2 separate regions of the Homo sapiens genome follow, and region 1 is linked to region 2. Evidence: fine-mapped expression QTL. A gene starts in region 2. The other region holds a variant in brackets. All regions are shown on one strand. Distances are between the middles of the regions.

Evidence for each region.
Region 1: its variant is fine-mapped to the expression of LRRC61 in follicular helper T cells (Schmiedel 2018, PIP 0.95).

The regions. Positions count from the first base shown.
Region 1 is chr7:149,440,498-149,456,209 of GRCh38, reverse strand. ZNF777 (zinc finger protein 777) reads left to right here. Exons shown (of 6, transcript NM_015694.3): 2 at 173-1,033; 3 at 1,973-2,099; 4 at 5,098-5,211. The coding sequence starts at 188. Among named protein-coding and RNA genes, the nearest start is that of ZNF777, 13 kb to the left of the region's middle. The variant TATAG/G (reference allele first, on the strand shown) is at 7,627.
Region 2 is chr7:150,314,766-150,330,477 of GRCh38, reverse strand. It overlaps LRRC61 (leucine rich repeat containing 61), which reads right to left and starts at 7,123. Exons shown (of 3, transcript NM_001142928.2): 1 at 6,918-7,123; 2 at 4,468-4,637. ACTR3C (actin related protein 3C) reads left to right here and starts at 6,933. Exons shown (of 8, transcript NM_001164458.2): 1 at 6,933-7,009. It also overlaps the pseudogene ZBED10P. RefSeq lists enhancers at 6,294-6,363, 7,684-7,743, 7,794-7,903 and a silencer at 6,754-7,073.

The DNA of each region.
Region 1 (15,712 bases), 870 kb after region 2:
AATTGATGTCTAAATTGGTGCTGTGGTCTCTAGAAGAGATTCACATATGAGGGGCACATATTATTGCTACCAAACGGAAGCACTTTTTATGTGTATACTTGTCTTTGGGTTTTATTTTGCTAGCTGGAGACTGTGGCCTTTAATCCTCTTTTCCTTTCTTCCATGAACACAGGTTCAGCAGCTGGACATGGAGAACCAACGCTCATCACCTCTGTCGTTCCCCAGTGTTCCACAAGAAGAAACCTTACGTCAGGCCCCTGCTGGACTCCCCCGAGAAACTCTGTTCCAATCCCGCGTTCTTCCTCCCAAAGAAATTCCTTCTTTGTCTCCCACCATTCCCCGTCAAGGCTCCCTGCCCCAAACTTCCAGTGCTCCCAAGCAAGAGACTTCTGGCCGGATGCCACATGTGCTCCAGAAGGGACCCTCACTCCTGTGTTCTGCCGCTTCTGAGCAAGAGACTTCTCTCCAGGGCCCCCTGGCTTCCCAGGAAGGGACCCAGTATCCACCCCCAGCTGCTGCTGAACAAGAAGTCTCCCTTCTCTCCCACTCCCCCCACCACCAGGAAGCCCCCGTTCACTCCCCTGAAGCTCCTGAGAAAGACCCCCTGACCCTTTCCCCAACAGTTCCCGAGACTGACATGGACCCGCTGCTCCAGAGCCCGGTTTCCCAAAAGGACACCCCTTTCCAGATCTCTTCTGCAGTCCAGAAGGAACAGCCGCTCCCCACGGCAGAGATCACCCGCTTGGCTGTGTGGGCTGCCGTCCAAGCAGTGGAGAGGAAGCTGGAGGCCCAGGCCATGAGGCTACTGACCCTGGAAGGCAGGACGGGGACAAATGAAAAGAAGATAGCCGACTGCGAGAAGACAGCCGTGGAGTTCGCGAACCATCTGGAGAGCAAGTGGGTCGTGTTGGGGACCCTGCTGCAGGAGTATGGGCTGCTGCAGAGGCGGCTGGAGAACATGGAGAACCTGCTGAAAAACAGAAATTTCTGGATCCTGCGGCTGCCCCCCGGCAGCAATGGAGAAGTTCCCAAGGTAAGCACATCCCAACTGGGGCTTCCCAAGGAAGTGATCTGAATTGGAGTGTGGTTTAGGAATGTAGTGTAATATGAAAGAAAGGGGTGGTTGATAAAGGAAAAAATACAGTGATCCCAGTTGCTAGGACATGCCAAAATCAAATTATTTCTCCTGTTGATGAGAGTATAGGCTAGTACAGAAATGCCCCTGGGATCGGGGATTGTCAGTTTGGAAGGGTGTTCAGCAGAGCTGTCCATGGTGTGAGAGACTACGAAGGCAAAGCGAAGGCCGATGAGAGCCGTGGAGAGGCTTTACCATCAGTCACTGAGGGTGCATTAGCTTCACAATTGCAGCAGAGGAAGGAGCTTGGGTTAAACATCACAAGGATCTGTCCCACTCCACATTTTTATGAGTTCACTTATAAGCCATGTTAGTGCCAGGAAAACTGATTTCAAGATGTTTCCTTTCAAAAGCTAGAGAAGTTAGGTTTCCATATTATTTTCCAGAAGGTTCTGAAAGAGCTTGAGTGTGGACTGGCTTGCTTTCTCTTCTTCAGTGCTGCTGCCCCCTTTCACAGCCATATGTAGGGAGAAAACAGACTCTGTTCTCTAGCCCGGTATGTCTCAAATGTTACTGTGCACATGGATCTCCCCGGGATCTTACTGAATGCAGAAGCTATTTAGTAGGTCTAAGGTGGGGTCTGAGCAAGTTACCTGGTAGCACCATTGCTGCTGGTCCACAGACCATGCTTTAGAGCTGCAAGAATTATATCCTGAAGGGGAGGAAAAGGATCCGACAAGACAGGCCCCTCACTCTTTGGGGCCAGGACAGTGGCCAGACTTCTAGAAAAGTCCTAGGTGAAGGCCCAGAGCCAGGAGTTTGGGCCTTGGGATTGGCCAGCCGTGGGCCTGTCACTGCCTTCCAGCGGGTCTGAGCCGAGTTATTGTGTGGTTTCAGGTCCCTGTCACATTTGATGATGTTGCTGTGCACTTCTCGGAGCAGGAGTGGGGAAACCTGTCTGAGTGGCAGAAGGAGCTCTACAAGAACGTGATGAGGGGCAACTACGAGTCCCTGGTTTCCATGGGTAAGGAGAAGCCTTCGCTCGCTGGGGGCTGCCTGGACGCCAGCTCAAAGTGCATTCATAAACTTAGGGAGTTCTGAACCCCAGCAGAGCCAATAGTTGCAAGCAAGGAGAACAGAGTTGTAGAGATCACAACAAATTAAAGCAAACGCCCTCATATACCCACACACATCAGTGCGGCCCAGGCCAGAATGGCTTGTAAATTGAGACCCCACTCTCAGAGAAGCTGCTGGGGCAAGGAGGAGGAGAAAGACCTAGACATCAGTGGTCTCTCCGTCATCATATTTTTCCCCATGGGGACCCCTTTTTAAATAAATTAGTTTGTCCAGCAAACTATTATTAAGGAAGGAAAAAAGAATGAAAGGAAAGTGTGCTGAGTGTCTCCTGTGTACCAGCCACATTTGAGGTGCTGTACAAGTATCATCTCCTTGGACCTGCACAGCCAAGATGTTGCGGAGGCTAAGACAGGTGTTCACACTCCTGTTCGATGATTCAGGTGCCTGAACACTGAGGCTGTGATCAGGGAGGTTAAATGCTTATTTCATGGAGATCTGCCTTACCCCGAAGTCTGTAGATTCTTGTGATTTTAATTAAGAATATTTAACGATGAAAACCTGGAAAAATATACTTTACTTACATATATATATGTGTGTGTGTATATATATCTGTTTCTCTGATATGGAGAACTTTTTGGGTATATACAAAAAAACGTTATCTTAAACATTTAAATGTGTTGTCACATAGAAACTTTGATTCCAGCTAGAATTGATAATTTTATACATACCTTTCCATAGGATACATTCCCTTCCTTTTAAAATTCTTTTTTCTTTTTTTAATTGTGTTTTTTAATTGTGAAAATTCAACAATTTAAATGATTTATATAATTAAGAGCAACCACCACCCATTCACCAGTACCACTCCCCAGAGGTAACCACCATGAACACTTTGGCCTGTGTTCTCTCTCATCTTTTTTTGCATGTGCAGATATAAGCATGATACATGCACTGAGGCACATGCAGTTTGGGGTTTGCACAGAGGGGCCCGTTTACTTATTTTACCTAATGTAGGGGGATAGAGAGTGTTCCATGTCAGCACACGTAGGACTCCTTGGAAAGACAGTGCAGTGTTCCACGTGAACCATTAGGGCTTTTGACCTGTCTGCTGTTGCTGAAGAGTAGGTTGACTGTTACAAAGTGTTATGATAAACATTTCTGTGTATTTGTGCACTTCTGTGTGTTACAGTAGGACAGATACTAAGAAGTGGGATTGCCAAGTAAACAGGATGCACATTTATAGTTTTATGGCTACTGCCTGGTGCCCTCCAGAAGGCTGAGCCAGTTGATATTTCTGCAAGGGTGTGTGAAAATGCCACTTCATACCCTGGCCTGAGCTGATGTTCTTCTATTTTAAATATTAGCCTTTTTTATAGGTGAAAAATGATACCTTATTTATTTATTTATTTACTTTTTTTTTTTTTTTTTGAGACAGAGTCTCGCTCTGTTGCCCAGGCTGGAGTGCAGTGGCACGATCTGGGCTCACTGCAAGCTCCGCCTCCCAGGTTCATGCCATTCTCCTACCTCAGCCTCCCGAGTAGCTGGGACTACAGGCACCTTCCACTGCTCCTGGCTAATTTTTTTTTGTATTTTTAGTAGAGACAGGGTTTTACCGTGTCAGCCAGGATGGTCTTGATTTCCTGACCTTGTGATCCAGCCACCTCGGCCTCCCAAAGTGCTGGGATTACAGGCGTGAGCCACACGCCCAGCCTACTTCATTTATTTAAATATGTATTCTTTGATGATTAGTGAACTTGTGCATCTTTTTTTGTTTGTTTGTTTGTTTGTTTGTTTTTGAGACGGAGTCTCGCTCTGTTGCCCAGGCTAGAGTGCAGTGGCGCGATCTCGGCTCACTGCACGCTCCGCCTCCCGGGTTCACACTATTCTCCTGCCTCAGCCTCCCGAGTAGCTGGGACTACAGGTGCCCACCACCGTGCCCAGCTAATTTTTTGTATTTTTAGTAGAGACGGGGTTTCACCATGTTAGCCAGGATGGTCTCGATCTCCTGACCTTGTGATCCGCCCGCCTCGGCCTCCCAAAGTGCTGGGATTACAGGCGTGAGCCACTGTGCCCAGTGAACTTGTGCATCTTTTTATATATTTATTGGCCATTCATATTTCTTCTATGAATTACCTATTTATAGCTTTGCAATTTTACTAGTTATAGAAGTTCTTTATGTATAACTATGGATATTAACCCTTTGCCATATGTCAAACATGTATATATATGTATAATATTTCCTCCAAGTTTCTTCATCTTTTAACTTTATTTCCAAAGAACTGCAGACTTATTTTATGTAAGAAAATCTATCGATATTTTATGGCTTTTAGATTTTTATCAGGATTAGTTTTTTGTTTTTTTCTTTTTTTGAGACGGAGTTTCACTCTTGTTGCCCAGGCTGGAGTGCAGTGTGTGATCTTGGCTCACTGCAACCTCTGCCTCCCAGGTTCAAGTGATTCTCCTGCCTCAGCCTCCCGAGTAGCTGGGATTACAGGCATCCGCCACCACGCCTGGCTAATTTTTTGCATTTTTAGTAGAGATGGGGTTTCACCATGTTGACCAGGCTGGTCCCGAACTCCTGACCTCAGGTGATGCGTCTGCCTCAGCCTCCCAATGTGCTGGGATTACAGGTGTGAGCCACTGCACCCGGCCAGGATTAGTTTTTTACCTTACAAAATTTCAAATATCTTCTGCCTTTATCATGAAAACCTGGGCAGGTTTTGACTACCTCTGAGCAACACGATCCCTCTACCCCCCGCCACACACACACACCCACACCCCCACACCCACAGTGGGCTCTTGGGAAAAGAAGGGGAGACTTGGCGGTTTTCCATTGTGGTCTCCAGTCGAGGAGCTGCTCCTGGAATCACGTGCCCACAGATGATACCTTAACAACATCCAGTGCAACCTCATCCCAGAGCATATTTTTTTCCCTTTCTTCTGCCTAGACTATGCAATTTCCAAACCAGACCTCATGTCACAGATGGAGCGCGGGGAGCGGCCCACCATGCAGGAGCAGGAAGACTCTGAGGAGGGCGAAACGCCGACAGATCCCAGTGCTGGTGAGTGGCTAAGGGTGATCTGCAGCTCTGCATTCTAGATCTTTCAGTACTCAGGAAGCGCCAGCATGAGGCAGCACAATCCAAGGTAGGCCCTGCCAGGATATGTTAGCAGGAAGGAGGCCCGCAGGTGCCAGGACCTGCTTTGGAGTGCCATGATCACCAGTGGCCCAACTTGTTGATTAATGGGAATGCCGTTGGGTTCACTGTCTCAGGAATTTTTTGACATGACCAAGTGTCACCTCACTCTCTGTAGGAAATAAAGCAAGAAACTCAAAGAAAGGCAGTCCCTTGTCAAGCAGTCATTAGTGCTTAAAATTCCTGGAACTTCCGAGAAAAGGGCCACATCCCTGAGTCCTGCAGGTGGTCAGTGGAGGGATAAGGGGCAGGCATGGAGTTTACCAGAAACATCCTACATGCACAGCTTCAGCAGGACAGCATGTAGGTGGAGTCAGCAGATATGCACCCAGCGAGACTGACCAGAGGCCGTGTGGCTCATGTGCACACTCTGGTGTGAGGCTGACTGTATCTGAGTATAGTTTTTCTGCTTACTGGGGGTGGGATTTCAGTTGCTTGATCTTTTCAGAGTCTCAGTTTCCTCATCTATAAAATAGAACTGGCACTAATATCTAACCGTAGGGCCTGGCACAGTGATTGGCACATAGCAGTGGCTCAGTATACACCAGCCGCTGTTGGTGTGCCTGGAGGTCGCCCCATTCACAGCAGCTGGGTCAGTGGCTCACACACTCACACTGCAGGCGCTCTTGTGGTGCATGGTTGCTCTCTGAAGCCCCTGCTTTGGAACTGCCTTTGGACTTGCATCACTTATCTTGATGGTCATCAGCAGAAGCTGATCCTTGTCCTTCGTGGGCAGGTGTGGCGTGTGAACATAGCTGAGAGTTACTGGCGATCATGTCTGCTGAAAGAGGATGATCCACCTGGAGAACTCTGTTTGGGGCCAACAGCCAGGTCTTGTTAGGAACTAATGTCGTTGATTTGGGGACCTATCAACTGGCTCCAAGCAGATGTTCTAGGAACATGGGAGTAATGTTGGCCCCATGTACTGAGTGGGAAGGTGACTTCTGGGAGAGACAGAACCCTGTAAAAATACAAGTGCTGGCATGTCCCAGAGAAATCCAGTGGTGTCACTTTCTATGGATTTGCCTAAAATTTAACTCGAGGAGAGGGGCTAATCCTGAGTTCCTTCCTGCAGACAGAAAAGAGGAATTTAAAAATTGATGAGGATGAGGGATTGGTGACAGTGTGGCACATGGCAGGGTGAACTTTTGGTTGAGGAAAATCAGTCTGAACCTTAAAGGTTTGAGTGGCCACATCCAAAAGCAAAGGTCAAGTAGAAATAGAGAGATTCTAGGTGGAAGAAATGAGAAAGAAGTGTTGCGAGGCAGAGAATGAGAAGTCAGGAGAGATGATTTGTGGTTAAAATCCTAAAATACAATCTGCTGTCCCAACGGGGCCTTGCGGTTCAGGTGCTGCTCTCATAGAATTTTCTTGGAAGGGCTGGATGCAAGAGCATGGATCCCCTTTCTCTGTCTGCTTTTCCCTGCCTCATCACAGATGGCCTCCCACAGAATGGGGCCAGAATTGAAAAGCAAATAACCCAAATCCATTCGGTCCTGGGCTGGGTTTGTTCTGACACATGCACATCCACAGGAGCTTCTGCTGGAAGAAGCGGCCTCACAGAGGCCTCCTTGTGTGGCTGAAATGTGTCATTTGTTCCAGTCACCATCTCCAGGCCCTGGGAGTCTGCAGTGGGAGGAAAGGGGAGGACATAGGTACCGCTGCCCCTCAGAGTGGGCCGCACACTCGCACCTCTGTGCTAAACCAAAGGCCCCGGCCTCGCCATTGCAGGCTGGTTCTGCAAAACTGCAGGTATCAGAGCCGTAGCACTCCAGTGGTAACCTGTCCATCCAAGCGCCTTCTCCTTTTGCAGAATGGCAGCAAATCCAGCCATGGGCCAGACCAAAAGTATGAGACAAAGGGGTAAAAGTCCAGAAAATTGAGACTTCTCATAATTCCAAATATACCAAACATGACAATTTTATGAATTGGCTAAGTAAATTCATTCAATAAACTATCATTTAATGGTTGGCTTCCCAAGGGCAAAGAGATGTAAAGATGATTCAGATGTCAACCCTCCAAATACTCAGAACAGGGGCTCCCATTCATTCACGGCCTTGAAAGGGTGGCCATGGAGGCCAGAGAAGCCAGGCACCATCTTCACCTAGCAAGTTGGCAAAGAGTAAAGCGAACCAGAAGGCATGGCTGAAATCTGTGTGCTCAGACATTGCCACTCAGAGGGTTCATCATTTCAGTCTCTCGAGAAAGCAATTTGATGCTTTCTAGTCTTAAAATATATATGTATTCTTTACTATATATATATATATATATATATATATA[TATAG/G]TTATATGTATAACTATATAACTATATGTATAACTATATATATAACTATATGTATAACTATATATAGTTATATATATATATATATATATATATAGTTTTGTTTTGTTTTTGAGATGGAGCCTCACTTTGTTGCCCAGGCTGGAGTGCAGTGGCGTGATCTCTGCTCACTGCAACCTCCCACCTCCTGGTTCAAGCAATTCTCTTGCCTCAGCCTCCTGAGTAGCTGGGATTACAGGTGTGTGCCACCACGCCCAGCTAATTTTTTTACTTTTCTTTAGTAGAGATGACGTTTCACCATGTTGGTCAGGCTGCTCATGAACTCCTAATCTTAAGTGATCCACCTGCCTCAGCCTCCCAAAGTGTTGGGATTAAAGGCATGAACCACTGCACCTGGCTTATTTTTAAGTATATTTTAAATATTTTAAATGTTCTTACATTTGACCTAATAATTTACTTCCTGAGAGTCTAGCAGGAAAAAGAATCCAAAATATAGATTAAGATGTACAAATATAAATCACAGTATGATAGACTGTTACACACTAAAATCACATTTATGAAGAGTTTTGAAACCATAAGTTTCACTCATATGTTTATTTAGTTCATCAGATCTCTTTGGTAGCAGGTACTGTGTCAAGAACTATATTAACCCTGAGGCCCTTGCCCTCAGACTTAACTCCTGTGGAGCGACTGACATTAACAACCAAAACACCCCCCACAGATGAAAGCACGGGCACCAGCTGTGACAAAGCTGAGACGCAGAGCATCCAGGGCTGCGAGACACACGACAGGGAAGGTGCCCTTGAGTTTGGGAAGTCAGAAAGGCCTCTTGGAGGATGTGGAATTTCTAGTGGAAACCTGAAGACTAAGTAGGGCTCTGGTTGCTCCGTAGAGAACTCACTGCAGGGGGGATGGTCTGGAAGCTAGGAGACTACTTGCAGGTTCTTTCCGTCTTCCAGGTAGGAAACCTTGGCATCGCCCTGAGAGAGAAGTGGCTGTTGTCAAGATATATTCTGGCAGTGGACTAGGAAGGCCTTAGGGATTGGTGGGTGTTGAATAGGAGGGCTGGGGAGGTGCTAAGGGTGGCCCCCAGGCCTCTGGCTTAAGTAAGAGTAGAGGGAGGGTAATGTAAGGTTCAGATTTGGAGAAACACTGAGAATTCCGTTTTGAACACATTAGGTTTGAGATCCCTGTGAGACATCAAAGAGCAGGTGTTGAGAAAGCAGCTGAATAAAGGAGTCTGGAGTTCAGAACCGAGGTCTGAGCTAGAGACATCTGGCCTTGGCACATTTGGACATTTGGGTGTCGGCAGCAGAGTTAGATTAGGTTGCTCAGTCTGTAGAGGGGGAAGAGAGGAGAACACAAGCCATGCCCTGCAGAACCCTGGCTTTTGGGGCAGATTCGGGGATTTGGAATATGTTGTTCATGATGGGGCCCGGATGTTAGTATTTTTTAGCTTCCAAGGTGATTTTCATCTGCAGCCAGGGTGGAAAACCACTGTTGTGGAAAAAGAAGGAGCCAGAGGAATCACGGGAAACAGAAAGAGTGGCCAGAAAGGTAGCAGGAGAATTAGGATACTGCCTTGTTGGGTATTTCTAGAGAAGGATGCTTCCAGAAGGAGAGAGTATGCCCAACCGTGTCGTATTCTGCTGTGTGGTTTAGGAACAGGAAGACTAAAAAGGGTCCATTGGATTGCAAGCTAAAAGTCATCAGTGACCTTAGGAAGACAAACGTTGGTACCTTAGTGGAGGTGGCAGCCTGATAGTCAGTGGGTGAGGAGCAGGTGGGAGGCGAGGAAGTAGAGATGGCAGGTGCTGACAGTCATTTCAAGAAGTGTAGCTGTGGGGGAGTGGAAATATGGGACAGTTGGGGGGATTCTTGTTTGCCTAAGATGGGGATTGCTAAAGCTTGTTTGAAATGTTGATGGGAATGATCCAGTTGATAGGAGGATTAAGGATGTAGAAGTGGGAAATGTAACTATAGTGAGGTCAGTGATGTAAGCAAAAGTAGATTAAAAAAAAACTGGATGGAAACATACCAAAGCCATATTTCTCTATGTTTTTTAAAATGTTCTGATGTGAGCATGTATTACTCCTTATTCAGTAAAAATATATTTTTTAAAACAGTACACAATGAAAGATTGAGTTGAGCAGGGCAGATTGAACATGTATTTATTCCCACCTTCCCAAATCCTTCCTTTTTTTTTTGAGATGGAGTTTCGCTCTTGTTGCCAGGCCGGAGTGCAATGGCGCGATCTTGGCTCACTGCAACCTCCGCCTCCAGGATACAAGTGATTTTCCCGCCTCGGCCTCCCCAGTAGCTGGGATTTCAGGCATGTGCCACCACACCTGGCTAATTTTGTATTTTAGTAGAGATGGGGTTTATCCATGTTGGTCAGGCTGGTCTTGAACTCCCAACCTCAGGTAATCTGCCCGCCTCGGACTCCCAAAGTGCTTGGATTACAGGCCACCACATCCGGCCTCCCAAATCCTTCTAAAACAAGAGTGAAGAAACTTTTAAAAAGAAAGGAGAAACAGCAACGAAGTTTTTCAGCCCTGAAGCAGGTGGATAGATGTGGTGAGCTGAATCTGAAATTGGTACTGGGGAAAACTGAGAAGAAACCCAATTTGCACCCCCACACCTGCTTGGGGCTCAAGAGTTAATAGTACCAGAGACTCTAGGGATCCCTGGAAATAGGAATGAAGTGAGGCTAAACACAGACAGCTGGCTGAACATCTTTTAAAGAGACCGCTTAAAGCTCCCCTCAGCTCCCATTGCCTCCCTCAGTCCCTACTGCAGGCATCTGCCTTTCCCTAGCCCTGATATGTGACAGGCTTATTCTCTGGGGAGGGTGCAAAGGAGGCTCTCTGGACATGGGCACCAGGCACAGTTGAGGGTGGGGCACCATATTGAAAACGGGAAGAAGGAGACTTGACGTGCAGATGTTGAGACCTCCAGCCTTCTTCCCTAACTCGACTCCCGAAATGTTGCCAACACCCAGAATTAAACCCACTGGGCAGGATATTTGAAGAGGCTTATCTGGAGACTTTTGGGACCAGCCCAAGAGGTTTCTGGGTAAAATGACTTGGCCAAAGCACCCTATGGGCCAAACAGAGTCCCATAGTTAGCAGGCCTCACCCAAATGCACTGAGCTCCCTGTTCTCTTGAGTGTCCCCTTTTAAGTCTCCGGGGACAACCAAGAATGAGAAGACATTTGGGAAAACTCTGTGGTGTACAGAGACAAGTAAAGAAATCAGAAAAAATACATTTAGAGGAACAGAGACCATGCAGAGAGGGAAAAATGTATATATGAATACTCACATGTAAAATCCTTAAATCAAATAAGTGAATGCATTCATGACACAAAAGTGTAATGCTTGTTTTTTAAAAAAGGAATAGAAAGGAACTCTTGGAAATAAAAAATGTAATAGTACAAATTAGAGACTCAGGAGCAGTGTTGGAGGATAAGCACACATCCCAGAAAATAAAGCTAAAAGAAAAGAAAATAGGGAAAAAAATAAAAATAAAGGATGGAAGGGAATAGGGAAAGAATAAGAAAACTGAAGGATGGAAGTCCAACATCCAGATAATAGGAATATCCAGAAAAAGAGTAGCAGAAACAGGTGGGAATTATCAACAAAATAATTCAAGAAAAGGTCCCGCCAATTAAAGCCGTAATTTTCTAGATTGAAAGAGCCAGCTGCCCAGAGCACTGGAAGAAAATAGACCTACACTTTCAGCACGGAATTTCAGAGCAACTGAGAACAAAGGAAATCCTACGAGCTTCCAGGGAAGAGAAACAGAGTCATGCGAAGAAATGAGAATTAGAATGGCCTCAGACATTTGTAACCACATTGGGAGCTAGAAGACAGTAGAGTAGTGCCTTTCAAATTCCAAAGGAAAATATTTTCCAACTTATAATTCAATGTCTAGCCAGACTATTTCGATTAAATATGAGTGAAACTGAGTCATTTTGAGATATTCAAGTCTCCACAAATCCTTTATCAAACTGGGGCAGGCGCTTTGCCAAAATGAGGAAGTAAACCAAGAAGGAGGCATTACAAACCCCAACTTGAGAGAGAGGTGGAGGCACTCCAGGCACACGGCCCAGGGGCATTCCGAGAGGTCAGCTGTGCACCTAGAGGCAGCCAGTCGAGTGGGGCACCTCCGCAGGTCCCAGAAATTTGTCTTCAAGTAGATGAAATGGATAAATACCCAATATATTTGAATGTTTGGAAAGGAGAGTTACACAGCAAGGTAAGGTTGGGGGAGTTTGGGGCTAAGTTCATGATAATTAGTCGTAAGCTGGGCAAAAGAAATAAGTGTCAGATCTAGGGAAAGCAAGAAGGTTTACAGGCGTAGGAGGCACTCACTGAATACTACAGAGTTTAGTTATAAATAACATTGATATAATCTAGCGAGGTAAACACCCAGTATTGATCCAACTAAAATTACAACAAAACTGTATTGGCAGGATCAGTTCGGAGGAGATGGTTCTGACCGTCATCCCTTGGAAGTCAATGGATGATGCTTAAAATTGAAAACTCAAGGAGTAGCAATATAAGTGTGTTACTTAGAGTTATGGAGGTAAATGACCAAAGAGTCAGCTGGAATCATTGAAGTGATTGCTTCGGGGAGCAGGAAATGGGGGCAGAGGAGTGGAAAAGAACTTTTTAAAAAATAAGTTTTGGGCCGGGTGTGGTGGCTCGCGCCTCTAATCCCAACAGTTTGGGAGGCCGAGGCAGGTGGATCACTTGAGGTCAGGAGTTTGAGATTAGCCTGGGCAACATGGTAAAACCCCATCTCTACTAAAAGTACACAAAATATGTATATATAGCTGGGTGTGGTGGCCCATGCCTGTAATCCCGGCTACTCAGGAGGCTAAGGCAGGAGAATCACTTGAATCCAAGGGGTGGAAGATGCAGCCCCGTCTCAAAAAAAAGAAGTTTTGAAGAACTGTTCAACTATGTTCCACTAGCCTATGTGCATGTATAACTTTAAAAAAAATTTTTTTTAATTAAAAAAACCTAACAGTATAGCCATGCGAAGATTGGAAAGTCAGTGTCAACCAATATTTATTTACTTTGAGCTGGTAGAGAGAGTTAATGTGGCAATACTGGTTTTTAATTTCACAAAGAAAAAGTACAGAGAGAGTGAAAGTCCCCCATAGTTTTCTCTCAAGAGTCAGCAGTTTATTCATTCCAATTTTATGTGCATGTGATTACATACACATGGCCTTAATTATATAAGTAATACATATACACATTATCATTGTAAAAAAATCAGACAATATAGAAGTATTGGCAAGTTTCTTTTTTCAATACTATATCATTGACATTTTTACGTCAGAATATATAAATTTGTCGTGTTCTTTTTCATAGCTGACAGTAGTATTCTGTGTATTGATTTCATAATTTATTTAAATACTCTGCCATTGATGTGCATTTAGGGTGTTCACAAGTTTCAGCGCCTCAGTAAAGATTATTATAAATAGATCTTCATGCACTTGTCTGGAATTTATTTAGAAATGGATTTTCTGGGTCAAAGGATACACCCACTTAAAAATTTAATAGATCCTGGCAAATCCCTTCAAATCACTTGTGCCAATTTACATGCCTTCACCCTTCTAAGCATGAGAATGTTTGTTTCTACACACTCTTACCAGTAATAGGTATTATTTATCTTTTTATCATTTGCCAAAGTAATAAGTAGAAAAAACACAATATTTGGATGTTTTTATTTGACTTTCCATAAGGGTGATGTTGAGCATATTTTCATACCTTTATTGATTACTAGTATGTCTTACTACTCTGTGAATAATCTTTGTTGTTATTCTTTTGGATTACTCGTCTTTTTATTATTGATTTGTAAAAAGCTTTTAAAATATTAAGGATATTAGCTCTTGTCTAACAGTATGTATGTGAATACTTTTCCTAGTTTGTGGTTTACTTTTTTTTTTTTTTTAGACAGAGTCTCACTCTGTTGCCCAGGCTGGAGTGCAGTGGCGCTATCTCAGCTCACTGCAACCTCCACCTCCTGGGTTCAGGCTATTCTCCTGCCTCAGCCTCCTGAGTAGCTGGGGTTACAGGTGCCCACCACCATGCATGGCTAATTTTTTTGTATTTTTAGTAGAGACGGAGTTTCACCATTTTGGCCAGGCTGGTTTCAAACTCCTGACCTCTGGTGATCCACCTACCTTGGCCTCCCAAAGTGCTAGGATTACAGGCGTGAGCCACCACGCCTGGCCTGTGGTTTACTTTTATATTTTGTGTGTGTGTCTGTGTGTGTGTGTGTGTGTGTGTGTGTGTAATAGCAGTTTTTAACTTTTATGTATTCAAATTTATCACTTTTTTTTTTTTTTTTTTTGAGACAGAGTCTCACTCTGTCGCCCAAGCTGGAGTGCAGTGGCGCAATCTCGGCTCACTGCAACCTCCGCCTCCCGGGTTCAAGCGATTCTCCTGCCTTAGCCTCCCGAGTAGCTGGGATCACAGGCCCCTGCCACCAGGCCCAGCTAATTTTTGTATTTTTTAGTAGAGACGAAGTTTCACCACGATGGCCAGGCTGGTCTCGAACTCCTGACGTCAGGAGTTTGTCCTGACGTTACCCGCCTCAGCCTCCCAATCTGGGTTTCGTATCAAGTGTAGAAATATTTACTCAAGCTATTTTATTTAGTAAACACTATGATCACAGATCTTAGGTCTGTGAGCATCTCAAAAAAAACCTATAAAAATATTTGAAACACAAAATAAAATATTTTTTGCCCTAGAAAACAAAAAGAAAATTGCTAAGTCTAAGTAATTAAATGCTTATTTTAACTAAATGTCTAAAAATATAGCATTATATCACTTTCAGTAACTAATAAATTCAGTCTTCACAAAGGTTTAATACATTTGAAAACAACTTATAGGATTTCCCCCACCCCACAGGAGTTCTTATGAACACGAATTATTACAAAGATTAAAAACCAATCACAGATTAAATAAGTTTCTTATAGCCAAATGATGGCAACAGCAAGCTACAAGAATCCTTTCAAAACAATTTATAGCAAAATTTATAGTTGATAAGAGTTGGGCACATTTAATATGTTTGGCACGAATAACCGAACATCCTCCAGAAGGAATATCTGAAGTGCCATAGGGTTACAGATAGCCTGTTCCTCAGCTTAAAGTTGTAAAACTTAGGTATGAATTTCTTATTTATACATAAATTTTTTTGTTCATCAGGAGTTTGATGTGAAATATGTGAAGTAGCTTTTTTCCCTTTCTAATCAGGAAGCCAGTTGTCTCCATTCCTTTTAAACTCTTCCCCACTGGATTGAAATGTTACCTTTTTCATAAACTATATTCCCACAATGTATGTGTCTTCGATTAATTTTTTAAATGGGAGAACAAATTCCTGCTTATAAATGAATGCAGCTTGGTTGTCAATACTCTTTGAAAAGTTGTTCGGGGTGGGGAGACATTTTTGGTGGGAAACGCTGGCGTTCCCTGCTGTTTAGCAAGTGGAGGGGAGGTGAAAGTGTGTACATACTGCCTGTTTTGAGGGAGGAAGAGTAGAGTATGTGCCACAAAGAGGAGCAGGCGAATGCCTAGAGCTCAGGGAGGAGCACAGCTACGTCCAGCTGAGAGCACTGAAGAGGCTTGATGGAGTGGTGGACACCCGAGTTGGGTCTTGAAGTAGGGCCAGGTATTGAAGGCACTCGTCTTCAAGCTGAGGTACCCATGCTCTTGAGGGGACAAGGGTACTCCCCAAGAGGGACATAATACAGGTGGCTTTGAGGGCACAATTTCCAGTCCTTAGTCCATCTCTTCTTGTCCAACTGATCAGCCAAAAGCACACAATGCATGTGGTCCCTGAAATGTGGCTTCTCATCTACATCTCCCATTATTTAAAAAAAAAAAAAAAAAAACAAAAAAACAACAGGCTGCTGGGCATGGTGGCTCATGCCTGTAATCGTAGCTCTGTGGGAGGCCGAGATGGGAAGATCACTTGAGTCCAGGTGTTTGAGACCAACCTGGGCAACATAGGGAGACCTCGTCTCTACAAAAACTTTAAAAATTAGCTGGGCATGGTAGCACTTGCCTG
Region 2 (15,712 bases):
TGTGCAGGTAGCGCAGCTGGGGCAGCACCTGGCTCAGAGAGGCCTGTGCCGCACTCGCCTCGCGGACCACCATCTGGAAGGGCTACAGGAGCTTGCTGAGGCTGTCTGCCGGGCTCCAGAATGTGGCCGACAAGGCAACACCAGCCTTCCCCAGCTGGTGCCTGCCCTTGTACTCTTGAAGGGGCTGCTGCTGCTCCACCAGCCACTCCAGCAGGTGGTAGGCCGAGACCCAGTGGTCCAAGAGCTCCTCAAAGGGCTGGTGGGCTAGGAGGCTGCGCTGGCGCTGGAGCTGGGTGAGGAGTCCCTGGGCCTCCACAGAGCCTTAGAAATGGCTGCAGGTGGCCCTGGCAGTGCCCAGGATGATCTGGACACTGTGAGGGTGACACAGAAAGTTTCTCACCAGGGAGTCGAGGCAGTGGGCGAAACAAGGGATGGGGGAACAGCCCTCACCCTTGGCCGCCTGCTCCAGGCTGGGGCAGCTGCTCGATACCAGGAAGCCTGCCAGCAGGAAGCTACGGCCCAGCCACAGGCTGGCCTGCTCCAGCATCTGCAGCTGCCAGTCCTCCGCGGCTCCCTCCAGGGGCAGGCCTCGCATCCAGAGCAAGGTTCCCAGCATCAGCCCTTGGAACTCCAACCAAGCTCTATCCAAATGCAAACGAGGGCAGCTGGGGGAAATCACTCAGGAGCCTACATGCTTTGTCTGAGGCACTACCCCTAGAATCTCCAGCTTTCAAAAGTGGCCTGGACAGGGAAGTTGTTTTCCTTTTTAAGAAGGACAGGTAATCATAATATTTCCCATGCTGGAGTGAAATGATTAAGCATGAGGCCAGATGACGGACCCAACCCACAGCCACTACCTTCTGAGGGAGGAAATTCCTCATGGGCAGGCCAGGCTTTACTCACATCTTGTTTCCTCACAGCCCACTCTTGGGACAGGGTGCTGGGAAGTGTCCCAAGCAATGGGTGGCGGAGACAGGCAGAGAGTGTGGCTGGGGGACCGCTGCAGACCTGCGGCTCCCACACTCACCCCACCCAGCTCCAGGCCAGTGCGATGGGACTGATTCGCTCCCTTGGATACCGTACCTCGGTCCCCCGTCTCCCGGGTGCCCACAGCACTAGCTGTGTCACCGATACGTCCGTGCATCTTAGCTTTTATTCCCCTTAATGTTGTTTGTGCTGTTGTCTACTTTAATCTCGGTCCCTCACTCTTTACTCTTCTCAGGTACTGAGCAACCTCAGGGATAAGTCGGCAGAAGCTCCAGGCCTGCATAGCAGGAATACTTCTGGTTGTTTTTCTAACCACGAAGAGCAACTATATGGAGGACCCAGCCTATTGAACTACCTCATGTTTGCCAGAGACTTGGCTTTTCTGCCACAGTGTCCTCCTGAAACCCCCCGACCTTGAAAATGTTTCACGGGAGACTAGGTTTCAACTGGATAGCATCAAGACTTGATCTCTGGCTAGTGGAAGATTGAAAATTAGACTAAGGTGCAGAGACACCAAGGGACACCACGGTTAGGTGAGGGTTTCCTAATCCTAGGGCATGGGACTTGCTTCACACACCAGGTCCGTCCTTCACTGGACTGTGCTAGGCCTACCATCCACAACAGAGGGTATGCGTGTGTATTCGTAAAAGACGTGACTTGGGAACGCTAAATTTTAAGACCAGTGCCCCTGTACCCATCCTGTGCTGTCCAGGGAAGGATATATGAAGCAAGAACTAAAATTCTTAACGTTTCCAAATTCTTGGGTTCAAGGGAGCCCCGTAAGAGAGGGCCTCTTCATGTGGTGTGCACAGCCAGCGTCCTGCCCTGCTGCAGCGCTGATTCAGCATCACGGTAACTAAGGAGAAAAGGGGGCTTCATTTACACGCTATAGGATCACCACAAACCTCCCTTGCTGGGCTAGAATGGGACAAGCACGATAGAACGTGTTCAGGGGTGCACATCTGATCCTGGGTTTGTTTCCCCCTGACGCTGCCCCCTCTAGTTCCTGTATCTGTCTGGACTTTGTAGCAGTTGGTGACTGCTAGGTGGCCTAGTTTGTGTAACTATACTGTGTTGGTCTTTCTCCATGTTTTTTTGGGGTTTTATTGTTTACAAACTTTTTTGTATTGAGAGAAAAATGGCCAAAGCATCTTTACAGAAAGTTCTGAACCAGGCAAAAAGGATGTAAAACATGAGTTTGGGGGACCCCCATATTGAAGTAGGGATTTTGAACTATCCTTTCTTTGTGTTCCCCTTCCTCTATTTCCTATTTTGGACCAGATCTTCTGCCCTAAAAACTTGACTTCTACCGTACCTTCTTCTCCATTCACCTACCCCAAAAGAAAACCTACATACCCACACACGCATATATTGAATTCTCAGGCTGTCTCTGCAACTCTTAAATGATGTATGAGAACAGCCTGAAGAAGTCAGGAACCCTCCATCTCTTGTTCCAAACCTGAGTCAATGTGGTTCACCCCAAACACTTAAGACACTGCTTTATTGGGATGGATCAAACCTACTTAATCTGTAATCTCAAAGAAGGGAGAAGCAACCGGGGGCCTTCCACGTAGAAGTGGGGTCAGGAGACCAGGCAAAGGAATATGAGTATATATCTAAGTCACTTAGGAACTTTTACGCAAGTGCAAGAAACTTTTTTTTTTTTTTTTTGAGACAAGGTCTTGCTCTGTCGCCCAGACTGTAGTGGAGTGGTACAATCTTGGCTCACTGCAGCCTCAACCTCCCAGGCTTAAGCGATCCTCCCACCTCAGCTCCCAAGTAGCTGGAACTACAGGTGTACACCAACACACCTGACTAATTCTTTTAATTTTTTTGTAGAGACAAGGTCTCACTATGTTGCCCAGGCTGGACTCCAACTCCTGGGCTCAAGCAATCTTCCTTCCTTGACCTCCTAAAGTGCTGGGATTACAGGTGTGAGTCACCACGCCCGGCCCGGTGCAAGAACTTATGTCAAAGTGGCTACAAGATTGTTTAAAAGGAGACAGATGAATGTAACCCCATGTTTACTGCTAGAAACCAAAGCTTTATGTGAAATCTTGAATTTAGGGGCAGGGAGGGAGGGTAGAAAGGCTTGTACCTTCCCTGATCCCTGCCCCTCAGTCCTGAACTGCAGGAGACCAGGGCCCCTTGGGCTTTGGTTACTCCATCTCTGGGGTGCATCTATTGGATGGCTGATTTTTCTGTACCAGGTACTTCCTTTCCCATTTTCTAATCACTTTGCAACACACATGCTGACCCTTTTCACTTCCCTTCTCCTTTCCCTGGAAAGATATAATGAATACATAAAGACTTACTGGTACTGAAACTCAAAAAAAAAAAAAGATAAAAAAGATCTGACAATGAGTGATGCTAAACATTACTCACCAGGGTAATGTTTAAAAAGGGTCACCAGAGATGGCAGGGCTGCCTATAACAGGTGACGAGATGGCTAAGAAGGCTCAAGCAAGACTCTGGCCAGAAAGAGGAGCTCCTCCCAGCCAGAAGAACCTCAGAAGGGTTAAGTGGCAACAACTTCAAGTCCATCTCGCAAGAACTTTCAGCCACCAATAAATCCAAGAACTGAAGGCCTACTGCAAGGTGGCGCTTGTGTAGGGGCTAGGTAAAGCTGCAAAGGAAACACAGGCTGCTGTCCTGGGCCCACAACTGCTCTTGGATGTCACACTGGAGGGGACTTAACTCTCACTTCATGATTGAGGAAACTGCAACCCCAGAGTGTGAACATCCAGGCCTCCAGAGGCCATCTGCAGAACGGGGTCACCCTCCAAAGTATTTTTTTTTTTTTTTTTTCAGACTGGGTCTTGCTCTGTCACCCAGGCTGGAGTACAGTGGCATGATCTACCTTGTTGCAACCTCTGCCTCCTGGGCTCAAGTAATCCTCCCAAACTCAGCCTCCCAAGTAGCTGGGACTTCAGATGTGCACCACCACACCCAGCTAATTTTTGTGTTTTCTGTAGAGACGGGATTTCACCATGTTGCCCAAGCTGGTCTTGAACTCCTGGGATCAAGCAATCCCCCTGCCTCAGCCTCCCAAAGTATTGGGATTACAGGTGTGAGCCACTGCACCCAGCACACCCCAAAATCTTCATCTTAAGACCTACCCAGTTACCCCAGGACACCAATCTTGTTCTGTTTCCCAATTAGCTTTGTCTCATCATAAATGCTATACTCTGCAGATACTCTTGATTCACTCAATCATTTAACAGAAATTCATCAAATGTCTACTATGAGCCAGCACTCTGCCTTCAAGATATGAACAGAGGAGAGTAGCTGCCTGGCTGGCACTTGGGGCTCAGGATGAGACGACAACCTAGAAATGGGCTCATCATTAGACCAGGGGGAAAGTGGGGTATGGTGCTATGAGGCGGGGAGGGATCCCTGGGGGGCCCCCGGGCTGACCTACTGAGAAACAGGGTCTATTACACTGAAGAGCTTAGACCCGTCTTGCAAGGTGTTGTTTACCTTAGGCTATTGCTTCACAATCTTCAACCCTCGCAGGCCCGTCAGGTAGATCTGGGATTTTGTGTCATCACTGGTACAACAGTGACACCACCATGTTCTCTTCCACAGAAGTACTTTAGGATGACAGTGCAGCTGGCACTGTTGAGAGCCAACCTTGAATCCAAATGAATCTAAAACGTAAATTTTAAAAAGAAAGTCATTGATAAATTTCAGTACTTTATAACTAAGAAGTTACTTGTGGCCAGGTGTGGTGGCTCACGCCTGTAATCCTAGCACTTTGGGAAGCCAAGGTGGGTGGACTGCTTTGAACTCAGGGGGTTGAGACCAGCTTGGGCAAGATGGCGAAACCTTGTCTTTACAAAAAAAATACAAAAAAATCAGCCAGCTGTGATGGCCTGTGCCTGTGGTCCCAGCTTCTTGGCAGTCTGAGGCAGGAAGATGGCTTGAGCAGGGAAGTGGAGATTGCAGTGAGCCGTGATTGCACCACTGCATTCCAGCCTGAGCAACAGAGCCAGACCCTGTCTCAAAAAAAAGAAGTTACTTGTGACACACATCACCACAGCTGACAACACATTGGAGGCCTACAACCACAACAAGACAAGATTCCAAGGGCTTCTAAGCTGAAGCACGGCCTTTTGGGCTGCACGCCTGCCCATAGTCGATCATGTGGGCAGCAGTCAGGAAAGCGCCCTAGCCAGGCCACATGGGAAGCAGGCACATCCCTGGGAGGCAAAAGGGAAAGCGGGCCAGGCCGGGGTGACGGCAGGGCGGGGTGATGGCACAATGCATGGAGGAGACTGTGGGGAGAGCTGTTCAGGAGGTGGCCCATGCCTAAGCCTCAAGTGGAAGAGGAGGAATGATGGAGAGCGCCTCCACAGTGAGCCTCTTTCCTCATACAGGTCCATGTGGGCTATTTTGGGGCAAATCTTCAGGCAAGTTTCTAGAGAAACTGAAGGAAAACACCAGAGGGGGCTGCCCAGGTAATGCTGACAATACAGGGAGGTGAGAGGATGAGCAGATCTCAAAGGTGACTGAGAGGCAGAGGGGAGAGACAAGGAAAAACCAAAGTAAAGTGAAGTTAGGGAAACCAAGAAAAGACTTTCCAAAAGCAGTGGTCAGCGGGGTCAAAGGTCCCTTCAGTGGGCGGTACAGCAGGAAGTGGGGGAGAAGCAGGAACCGGGAATGCTGGAGGTGGGGATGGGAGGGAAAAGGCTTGGCTCTGTCCCTAAACAGAGAGAAGGTGACCTGGGAAGAGCGGGGAGGCTAACTACACAGGGAAGAGAAGCTTCCTGGAGAAAGGGATCCAGGGCACAGGCGGTGGAAGGGATTGGCCTCAAGAGACCAGGAAGAACTCTCATTTTTCCTGACAGAGAAAGTAGGATGGGTCTGGTAGCAGGCAAGTCCTGGAGTGCTGTGCAGAAGGGAAGTGAGGCAGCTTATGCCTGAGAGCCAGGCATGTTGATTGCTCACGGGGAGCCGTACATCTGTAAAGGCAGCCAGCGGCTGGCTGAGTGATCTGGCTTAGCCTGGGCTGGGAAGCACCTCCGCACACTGGCTCAAGAAATTAGACCTATTCTTCTCGCTGCTCTCACCAAGCCTTTTCCCAAGTGCGTGCCCAGAAGGAAAGCGGCCACTCTTCTACTTCTCTTGTGCCTGCAAGAGAAGTAGAACCCCACCCTGGGCATTCCATGATTATGCCAGGCCTTTCTCACTCCGCCCAGTCCCTCTCCAGCCCCTCTGCTCTCAACTCCAGCACTGCAGGGGGACAGAGTGTCTACTCCACCCCCACCAGGCAGGGGATTTTAAGCACCTGCTGGGCCCTCAAGTCTCATCTTCCTCCACAACATCTGTGAGAAGATTGAAAGGTGGTGAGAGAAAGGGATAGGAGGAGATGAACGTGTGAAAGGAAAAGAGGAGAGCAAGCCATTGCATGTTTTGGGGTTTTGTCCCACACGCAAATTTGACTACTTATAAAGTCTAAGCAAGATGTTTTAAATAATAATCATGCATCATTAGGTTTCATACTGTGCAAAAAAAATGACACAAAGTGAGATCTGTTACAAACGACACGGCAGCACTCTGCTACTTTCTGGAAGCTTAGGGCTAACAATGGAGTCAGAGCATGGCATCCAGAGCCCGTCTCTGAGCACGGCCGTGATCCTGCTCCAGCACACGCCTCGGTTTCCTCGTCTACATTACGGGAATAGTAACAGCACCCGCCTCATGAGATTGTTAGTGTTAAACGAGTTAATTAATACCACAGTATTTCAGGGCAGTTCTCGGCACAGAGGGAGAGATGGGTAAGGGCTGGCTGTTCCGGAAGATTCTGGCCTCTCCCAGTGTGTTTCGGCGCGAGGGCACCGCTGGCCCAGCAGGTGGCCCCCCGGGGCCGGCACGGGCCCCGACAGCCGCCCCCTTCCCTGAACCTCGGCGGCCCAGTCCCCGCTTACCTGAGGGGTGGAGCCGGCAGCCTGCGGAGCCACTGGCCAAGCTGGGAAGTCCGGCGCAACTCCGCACCGCAGAGCCGGCGCCTCCTCGGCAGGTAAGAGCCGCAGCCCCGCCGCCCGCCGCCTGGCGGCCCCTGACCCCTGGGCCGCGTGCCCACCACCCAACTTGTTGGCCAGCGTGCTTCTCCCAGCGCCGCAGGCCTGAGCTCCCGGAACGCGCCCAGGGGGCCTGGCCAAAGGCCGTAGTGGGCGCTCTGGATTCCGGGATGCGCCAGGGGTTACTTCCGGAAGCGCAGCCTGCGGGGGTCTTCGCGCGCACCCCCCGCCTCGCAGTTGGTACGTTCCTCCTACCTGCGGTGCCTGAGTGCGCAGGCGTGGGCAGCGAGGCGGTGCGGCCGGAAGCGAAGGGGCCGTGAGGTCAACAGTCGGTAATCGTTTATCGGTGCGGCCTTAGAGAAAGGACCTCCAAGCCCTTGTTCAATACATGTTGGGTGGTGGTCACAGGTGCCAGTCTCCGGACGGATGGCGGCCTAGATTTCCTCCCGGACTCGGTGGCACCCAAGGCCCCCTGCACGCCGGCGCTGTGCGTGCCAGGCTGACCGCCCGAGTGCGACCCGGACCTCGTCCGCACGTGCAGATGGAAGGGGCCACAAAGACGATAAGGATCCAGGTCTCCCGCGTGGAAGGCTCATCTATCGGTCGGTTCAGGAAATCCACCCAGGGTGTCTCCTGGTGTTATCAGAAAGGGGTCCCGATCCAGGCCCTAAGAGAGGGTTCTTGGATCTCATGCAAGAAAGAATTCAGGGCAAGCCCATAGAGTAAAGTGAAAACAAGTTTATTAAGAAAGCAAAGAAGTAAAAGGATGGCTACTCCATAGGCAGAGCAGCTCCAGGGCTACTGGTTACCCATTTTTTGGTTATTTCTTGATTATATGCTAAACAAGGGTTGAATTATTCATGAGTTTCAGAGAAAGGGGTGGGCAGTTCCCGGAACTGAGGCTTCCTCCCCTTTTTAGACCATATAGAGTATTTCATGATGGTGTCATGGCGTCTGTAAACTGTCATGGTGCTTGCTGGTGGGAGTGTCTTTTAGCATGCTAATGCATTATAATTAGTGCATAATGAGCAGTGAGGACCACCAGAGGTCCCTCCCATTGCCATATTGGTTTTGGTGGCGTTTAGCCAGCTTCTTTACTGCAACCTGTTTTATCAGCAAGGTCTGTATGACCTGTATCTTGTGCCAACCTTCTGTCTCATCCTGTGACTTAGAATGCCTAACCTCCTATGAATGCAGCCTCATTTTACCCAGCCCTTATTCAAGATGGAGTAATTCTGGCTTAAACACCTCTGACACTGGGGCAAATGCCTGCTGCCTGATGACTCCCACAAGTCCTTAACACCTAACCCAGAGAACATCTGGGCCTGCATCCACTCTGGTGCTCTGCCACTCCTGCAGCTACAAATTGTGTGGGAGCCGAAGAAGTCATGTTCCCTGGACGAGCACAAAATGCCTGTTTGTCCCATGTTGGTTCCACATGTGCACCAAAGTGAACAACTTTTGTCTCCCTGGCTACCTTGAACTTCTTTCCACCTCCTCAGTTGGACATATTCAAGGGGCTGGCCCGGGGGCAGGCTTCCCTAGTCTTCCCAGGGGCAACCTCAGCTTTTCCCATATCTTTCAGATGACCCTTCTCCTGCCCCAAGCAAATTAATGCCAAGCCAGTCTAGTTCTCCAGCTTGGGCTACAGCTGGGACCCCTGCCCAAGAATAGTGATTTTTATCTTTACACTTTATCCAAGTTTTTTATTTTTATTTTTATTTTTTTGAGATGGAGTCTCACTCTCTTGCCCAGGCTGGAGTGCAGTGGTGTGATCTCAGCTCACTGCAACCTCCACCTCCTGAGTTCAAGCGATTCTCCTGCCTCAGTCTCCCAAGTAGCTAAGACTACAGGCGTGAACCACCACACCTGGCTAATTTTTGTATTTTTAGTAGAGACGGGGTTTCGCCATATTGGCCAGGGTGGTCTCAAACTCCTGACTTCAAGTGATCTGCCCGCCTTGGCCTCCCAAAGTGCTGGGATTGCAGGTGTGTGCCACCCTGCCCAGCCATATGCAAGTTATTTTTAATTTCAGTTGATCTCCATGCCTCGGAGATGGAAGTATTAGTTTCTCCATTATATGGATCAGAAAATTGAGACTCACACAGCATGTTACAGTAGGAAATGGCACTAAAAGAAAAATTATTCAAACAATTGTTAAGGTGAGAGACTTTATTCAAGAACAGCTGCAATAGGGATTATGCAATAGGGGCAAAAAAATCAGGCTTAACATCAAATACAAGGACAGGTGGAGATTTATAGTTAAGCAACAGGGTGGAAGTCAGCAGATGGAAAATTACTAAGAGGACACATAAAGGTTAGGGAGATTTTTGCTGAACACAAGCCGAGGTGATCAGATACCAAGGGTAGGGGATTTTTGCTGAACTGACTCAGCAGGATTCTTGCTAAAACTGAACTAAGTGAGTTAAGGACCAGCCCAGGGTCAGGGCCTAGTCAAAACGAGGACTGAGAGGAGCCTGACTCAAGTTTAGTCAAAGAGTGAGTTCTTTTCATGAGCTACCAATGATTTGAGTTGTATTGTCAGAGGTGTCCTAACTAGAGTGACACTATCCTAAATAAAGGCTGGGGAAGGCAAGACCTGCTGGGTTGCATTCCCAGGAAGTCAGCACTCTTGATCACAAGATGTTTATTGTTGAGGAAACAAGTTAATGGAAAAAGGCATTCTTGTTTTTGTTTTTGTTTTGGAGATGGAGTCTCACTCTGTTGCCCAGGCTGGAGTGCAATGCCACCATCTCGGCTCACTGCAACCTCTGCCTCCCGGGTTCAAGTGATTCTCCTGCTTCAGCCTTCGAAGTAGCTGGAATTACAGATGTGCGCCACTTTACCTGGCTAATTTTTATATTTTTAGTAGAGACGGGGTTTTGCCATATTGGCCAGCCTGGTCTCAAACTCCTGACTTCAAGTGATCCACCCACCTCAGCCTCCCGAAGTGCTGGGATTACAGGCTTGAGCCATGGCGCCTGGCCTGGAAAAAGGCATTCTTAATTTAAACTATATTTTGCTCTAAAGATAATAGTCCACTCATAAATTCTTTCTGAAATTAATTGCACAAGAGAATAACAATACAGATAGTCTGTCACAAGCCGATCACAAGCCTTTGTAATAAAATACACTATTCTTAGCTCTAATATCCTACACAAACAAGCATTACATTTGAGGTAGGGCGTTCTTCCTCTTGCTTCCTGAGGATACCCTACTCTAATAGATTAGTTTCTAATAAACCATTTAAACTTTACTGTACTTTGCGACTCACCCTAAATTCTTTCCTGTGCAAGATCCAAGAACCTGCCCTTGGGGTCTGGGGTGAAACCCCTTTTCTGGTAAGAGTACTGTTACATGGGATCCACACTATGGGCTCAGAGTTGGTCCCTTTCCAGCGTTAATCCAGAAACACTCTAAAACAAGGAGTTTCTTACTCAAAAGAGGGCAAAAGACCAGTCAGGGATGGATTGGCAGAGGAAGAACGGAAGGAAATGCTGATCTTCCTGTAGGTACAAAACTTGTCACTGCAGCCAAGCCAAGTTTCAGGAGGGTTGACCTAAAATCATCTCGTTTTGCTAGGTGTTTTACAAAGGATAAATAGGACTGGCTCCTGCCCCTAGAGCTTCCAGATACAGCATCCCTGTTTGCCCTGTTTGCAGGGGTGACAGAAAGTGGGAAGTAGCTACATTAGCTGCTAACTCTGTCTCGGGTCAGGGGAGAGGTTGGTAGGGTTAGCCCCAACAGTGTTTTAAAATGCAGAGTAATTGTCAAGACTGGAGTCTGGGCAAACAAACAATAAATAAATAAATACAAAGTAATTGGATGGACAAAGTGCTTTGCCTCCATCTTCCCAAAGTCAAAGGCACCTGAATTTGCCATCCTGCCCTAACTCTTCCTGGACCATTTCATAGCCTTGTGGAATGTCAGAGCTAGACAGACCCTTAAGAAGTTTGTTCTGGGCCAGGCGAGGTGGCTCATGCCTATAATCCCAGCACTTTGGGAGGCCGAGGCAGGCAAATCACCTGAGGTCAGGAGTTCAAGACCAGCCTGAGAAACATGGAGAAACCCCGTTTCTACTAAAAATACAAAATTAGCTAGGCATGGTGGTGCATGCCTGTAATCCCAGCTATTCGGGAGGCCAAGGCAGGAGAATCGCTTGAACCTGAGAGGCGGAGCTTGTGGTGAGCCAAGCTCACGCCATTGGACTCCATCCTGCCTAGGTAACAGAGTGAGACTCTGTCTCAAAAAAAAAAAAAAAAGAAGAAGCAATTTTACAAATGCTGTGCAGTGAATAAATTTCAGAGTCACTCGACTTGGAACCGGGGATTTTCCCAGTAGAGTGTACACTTTAACTCTTAAATTGCCTAAATTGACAAGACTTGCTCAGTAATAGACTGGGTAAAGATTAAATCCAAATTTTTGTCTACAGCCCAGGTATCTTCCTACTTCAGCAGTGTTTTGGGATGTAGAAGAACCTGGGAAACTTGTTTGAAAATGCAGAATACAGGGCCCACACCCATTATGTGGGTCTGGAAGAAGCCCAGAAAATGACTTTTAAAATAAACCCCTAAGGGAGTGAAATGCATGAGAATCACATGGTTTATGTAAGCTTTTGAGAAACACTGATCTAAAGCAAATTTTTGGGCTCACGGGCCCCCAGAAGAATCTTGAAAAACTCTGTATGTTCTTTGTTTTGTTGTTGTTGTTGCCATTGTTGTTGAGATGGAGTCTCACTCTGTCACCCAGGCTGGAGCGCAGTGGTGCGATCTCGGCTCTTCGGGTTCAAGCGATTCTTCTGCCTCAGCCTCCCGAGTAACTGGAACTACAGCTCTGCACCACCACGCCTGGCTAATTTTTGTATTTTTAGTACAGATGGGATTTCACCATATTGGCCAGGCTGGTCTTGAACTCCTGATCTCGTGATCCGCCCACCTTGGCCTCCCAAAGTGCTGGGATTACAGGCGTGAGCCACCGCAACTGGCAACTCTGTATACTTTAAAGTTGGCATCTTTATTAGTTTTCCAGGACTGCAGTAAGAAAATACCACAAACAGGGTAGCCTAAAACAACAGAAATGTATTGTCTCACGGTTCTGGAGGGTAGAAGTCTGAAATCAAGGTGTTGTACTCTCTCTGAAAGCTCTAGGAAAGACTCTGTTCCATGTCTTTGTCTTAGCTTGTGGTGCTCCCAGAAATCCCTCGTGTCTTTTGGCAGAGATCAGACCACTCCATAATGATCTCTGAGCACAGACAAAACAAGAACATTATCCAAACCGCAGGAAACCTCCCCATCCTGGCTGATACAAATGACTAATGCTTTTCACCGTCATAGCTTTAGCCTCACTCTATTCTTCTCGTCTTCTCCATAAGAATTATCTAAAATATACACAATTATAGAATTGCCCCTACTTCCCGACATCATCCCATTGAGAGGAAATCCCCATTTTCTTGCAACCTCCCCCAAATCTACTAAAACAAGCCCTGTCCTATAAAGAGTCCTTTTTAACACCCTCTTGTGAGACATCCCATAGTTCCTTTTGGTTTACTTTCCTCCTCCTTGCAAGGAGCCGATAAACCCAACCCCATTCAACTGCAGATGTGTTCTTGGTGGTCATAGATTTAAAGAGAAAAGTCATAATCCATTTCCTCAGCTACTGGAATGGATTCAACAAAATTCAATATCCATCTGGATAATAACTAGATTGTAGTGAAATAGAAATAGATGCCTATTTTCTTAGCATGATCAGATATATCCACCTCAACCTCAAAGATAGTATAATGCTTAAATGGAAAACATGAAATGTATTCCTGTTGAATTCAAGAATAAGATAATCACATATACTATTACCATCATCATTTAACGTTGTTCTGGTGGTTTAGTCAACACCACTAGTTAAGAGAGAGAAATTAGAGGCTTATTAACTGGAAAATAGGTAAAATTATCATCATTTCAAGTGACTTGATTGCATAAGTGAGAAACACAAAATAATTAACTGACAAAATTTACTACAGCTAATAAAATAATTCAGTAAGGTGTGTGGGTTTAATATTAATAAATGGGAATCAAAAGCCGCCATCTATGCAAACAACCACCAGTTAGAAAATACAAAGGAAGGCTGGGCGCAGTGGCCTACACCTGTAATCCCAGCACTTTGGGAGGCCACCAAGGCAGGCAGGTCACTTGAGTCCATAAGTTCGAGACCAGCCTGGCCAACATGGAGAAACCCTGTCTCTACTAAAAATACAAAAAATTAGCCGGGCATGCTGCACGCCTGTAATCCCAGCTACTTGGGAGGCTGAGACATGAGAATCACTTGAGCCCAGAAGGCAGAGGTTGCAGTGAGCCGAGATCACGCCATTGCACAACAGAAGGAAACTCAATAAATAAATAAATGAAGGAAAGAAGGAAGGAAGGACTCCAGCTGTTTACTAACAATAAAAAAGATTAAACATCAAGGAAAATGCTTAGCAGAAAATGTACAAAATCTATGTGAAAAAAAACCAAAACTTTTAAGCATCACTAAAGACAACAAAAAGAAGACCTAAATAAATGGAAAAGCTTATCATGTTCAGGGGCAGGAGGACTAAATATCTAAAAGATATCGGTTCTCCCTAAAATAGGCTACCAGTTTAACGTAATCCCAGGAAAAATTCCAAGAGGAACTTTTAAGAACCAGATTCTTGGCCAGGCGTGGTGGCTCATGCCTGTAATCCCAGCACTTCGGAAGGCCGAAGTGGGCAGATCACGAGGTCAAGAGATAGAGACCATCCTGGCCAACATGGTGAAACCCCGTCTCTACTAAAAATACAAAAATTAGCTGAGCGTGATGGCACGCATCTGTAGTCCCAGCTGCTCAGGAGGCTGAGGCAGGAGAATCGCTTGAACCTGGGAGGCAGAGGTTGCAGTGAGCTGAGATCGCGCCACTGCACTCCCGCCTGGCAACAGTGAGACTCCGCCTCAAAAAAAAAAAAAAAAAAAAAAATAACCAGATTCTAAAGTTCAGATGGAAAAATAAACAAGAATAGCTAGAAAAATTCAGATAAAGAATAGTAGTGGCTGGGGGTTGGTAGGAACAAGCCCTGACACATATCAACATATATTTAAAGCTACTACAGTCGAAACACTATGTATGTGTGCAATGTATTGACAGCCAGATTAATGAAATGGAATAAAAAGTTTAAACAGGCCCAATGTATTGCTTAAAGAAAGTATGGTACATCCACATGATGGAATATTAGGCATTCATTTTTGTTGTTTGTTTGTTTTTTGAGACAGAGTTTCACTCTTGTTGCCCAGGCTGGAGTGCAATGGCGTGATCTCGGCTCACTGCAACCTCCACCTCCCGGGTTCAGGCAATTATCCTGCCTTAGCCTCCTGAATAGCTGGGATTACAGGCATGTGCCACGATGCCCAGCTAATTTCGTATTTTTAGTAGAGACGGGGTTTCTCCATGTTGGTCAGGCTGGTCTCGAACTCCTGACCTCAGGTGATCCACCCGCCTCGGCCTCCCGAAGTGCTGGGATTACAGGCGTGAGCCACCGCGGCCGGCCTATGCATTCGTTTTTAAATATAAGGAAACTGTGTACTGATATGGACTGACTTTTCAGGATACATCGTTAAGTGAAAAAAAAAAAAGTATAGTGTTGGGAGTGTTTGTGTCTGTGTTTTTATTAAAAAGGGGAGAATACACACATGTATGAATATACATAAGCATGTGTATGTTTACTTCTACATGCTAGAGTCTCTCTGGAAAAGACATACAAGAACTTGTAACAATGACCCAGGGAGGGGAACTGTGTTGTTGAGGGGGCAAAGAGGGTGTTTTCACTGTGAGCTCAGTTTTACCTTTTGAATTTTATTTCATAGGAATGTCCTTCCTATTCAAAAACTGTAATAAAATATGTTGAATGCTAACAACGAATTAGTATATAAAACGTACAATGTATTTTCCTTATAATTTTTTACTTCTTCCATCCTGAGCATGTTTTCTGTATTTTTTGGCTATGTGCATATCCACTTTGGAAGTGCTGTTCAATATTGGGTTGTCTTTTCCTGATTGATTTGTAGGCGTTGCTAGCATCTTCGGCTGCATATCCTCTTCCAGGTATATGGATTGTGAAGATCCTCCCCAGCTGTAGCTTGCTGTTTCCACCTTAATCATGTTTTAGCAGGACAGAAGTTTATCACGATGACGTTCAATTTTAATGAATTTCGATTTTAATGTAGTTCAGTTTGTCAGTCTTTTATAGTCATTGCTTTTTGTGTCCTTTTAGAGAAATCTTTGCCTACTTCATCACTTGTATGTATTTTTAAAATAATAATAAATATTATTTATTATACATAATATATAAAATAAATAATATAAATAAAATATAATAAATAATAAATATTTTCTTATTTAATAATAAAATAATAAAAGTAATTATTAATATTATTTATAAATATTATTTTATTATTTAATAATATTTAATAATATTATTAAAAATAATACTATTTATTATTTATTATTATGTTGAAACTGGGTCTTGCTTTGTCATCCTGGCTGGAGTGCAGTGGTGTGATCACAGTTTACTGCAGCCTCGACCTCCGGGGTTCAAGTGAGCCGCTCGCCTCCGCCTTGTGAGTAGCTGGGACTACAGGTGTGTGCCACTGTGCCTGACTAATTTTTGTTGTTGTTGTTTTTTTTTTTTTTTTGGAGAG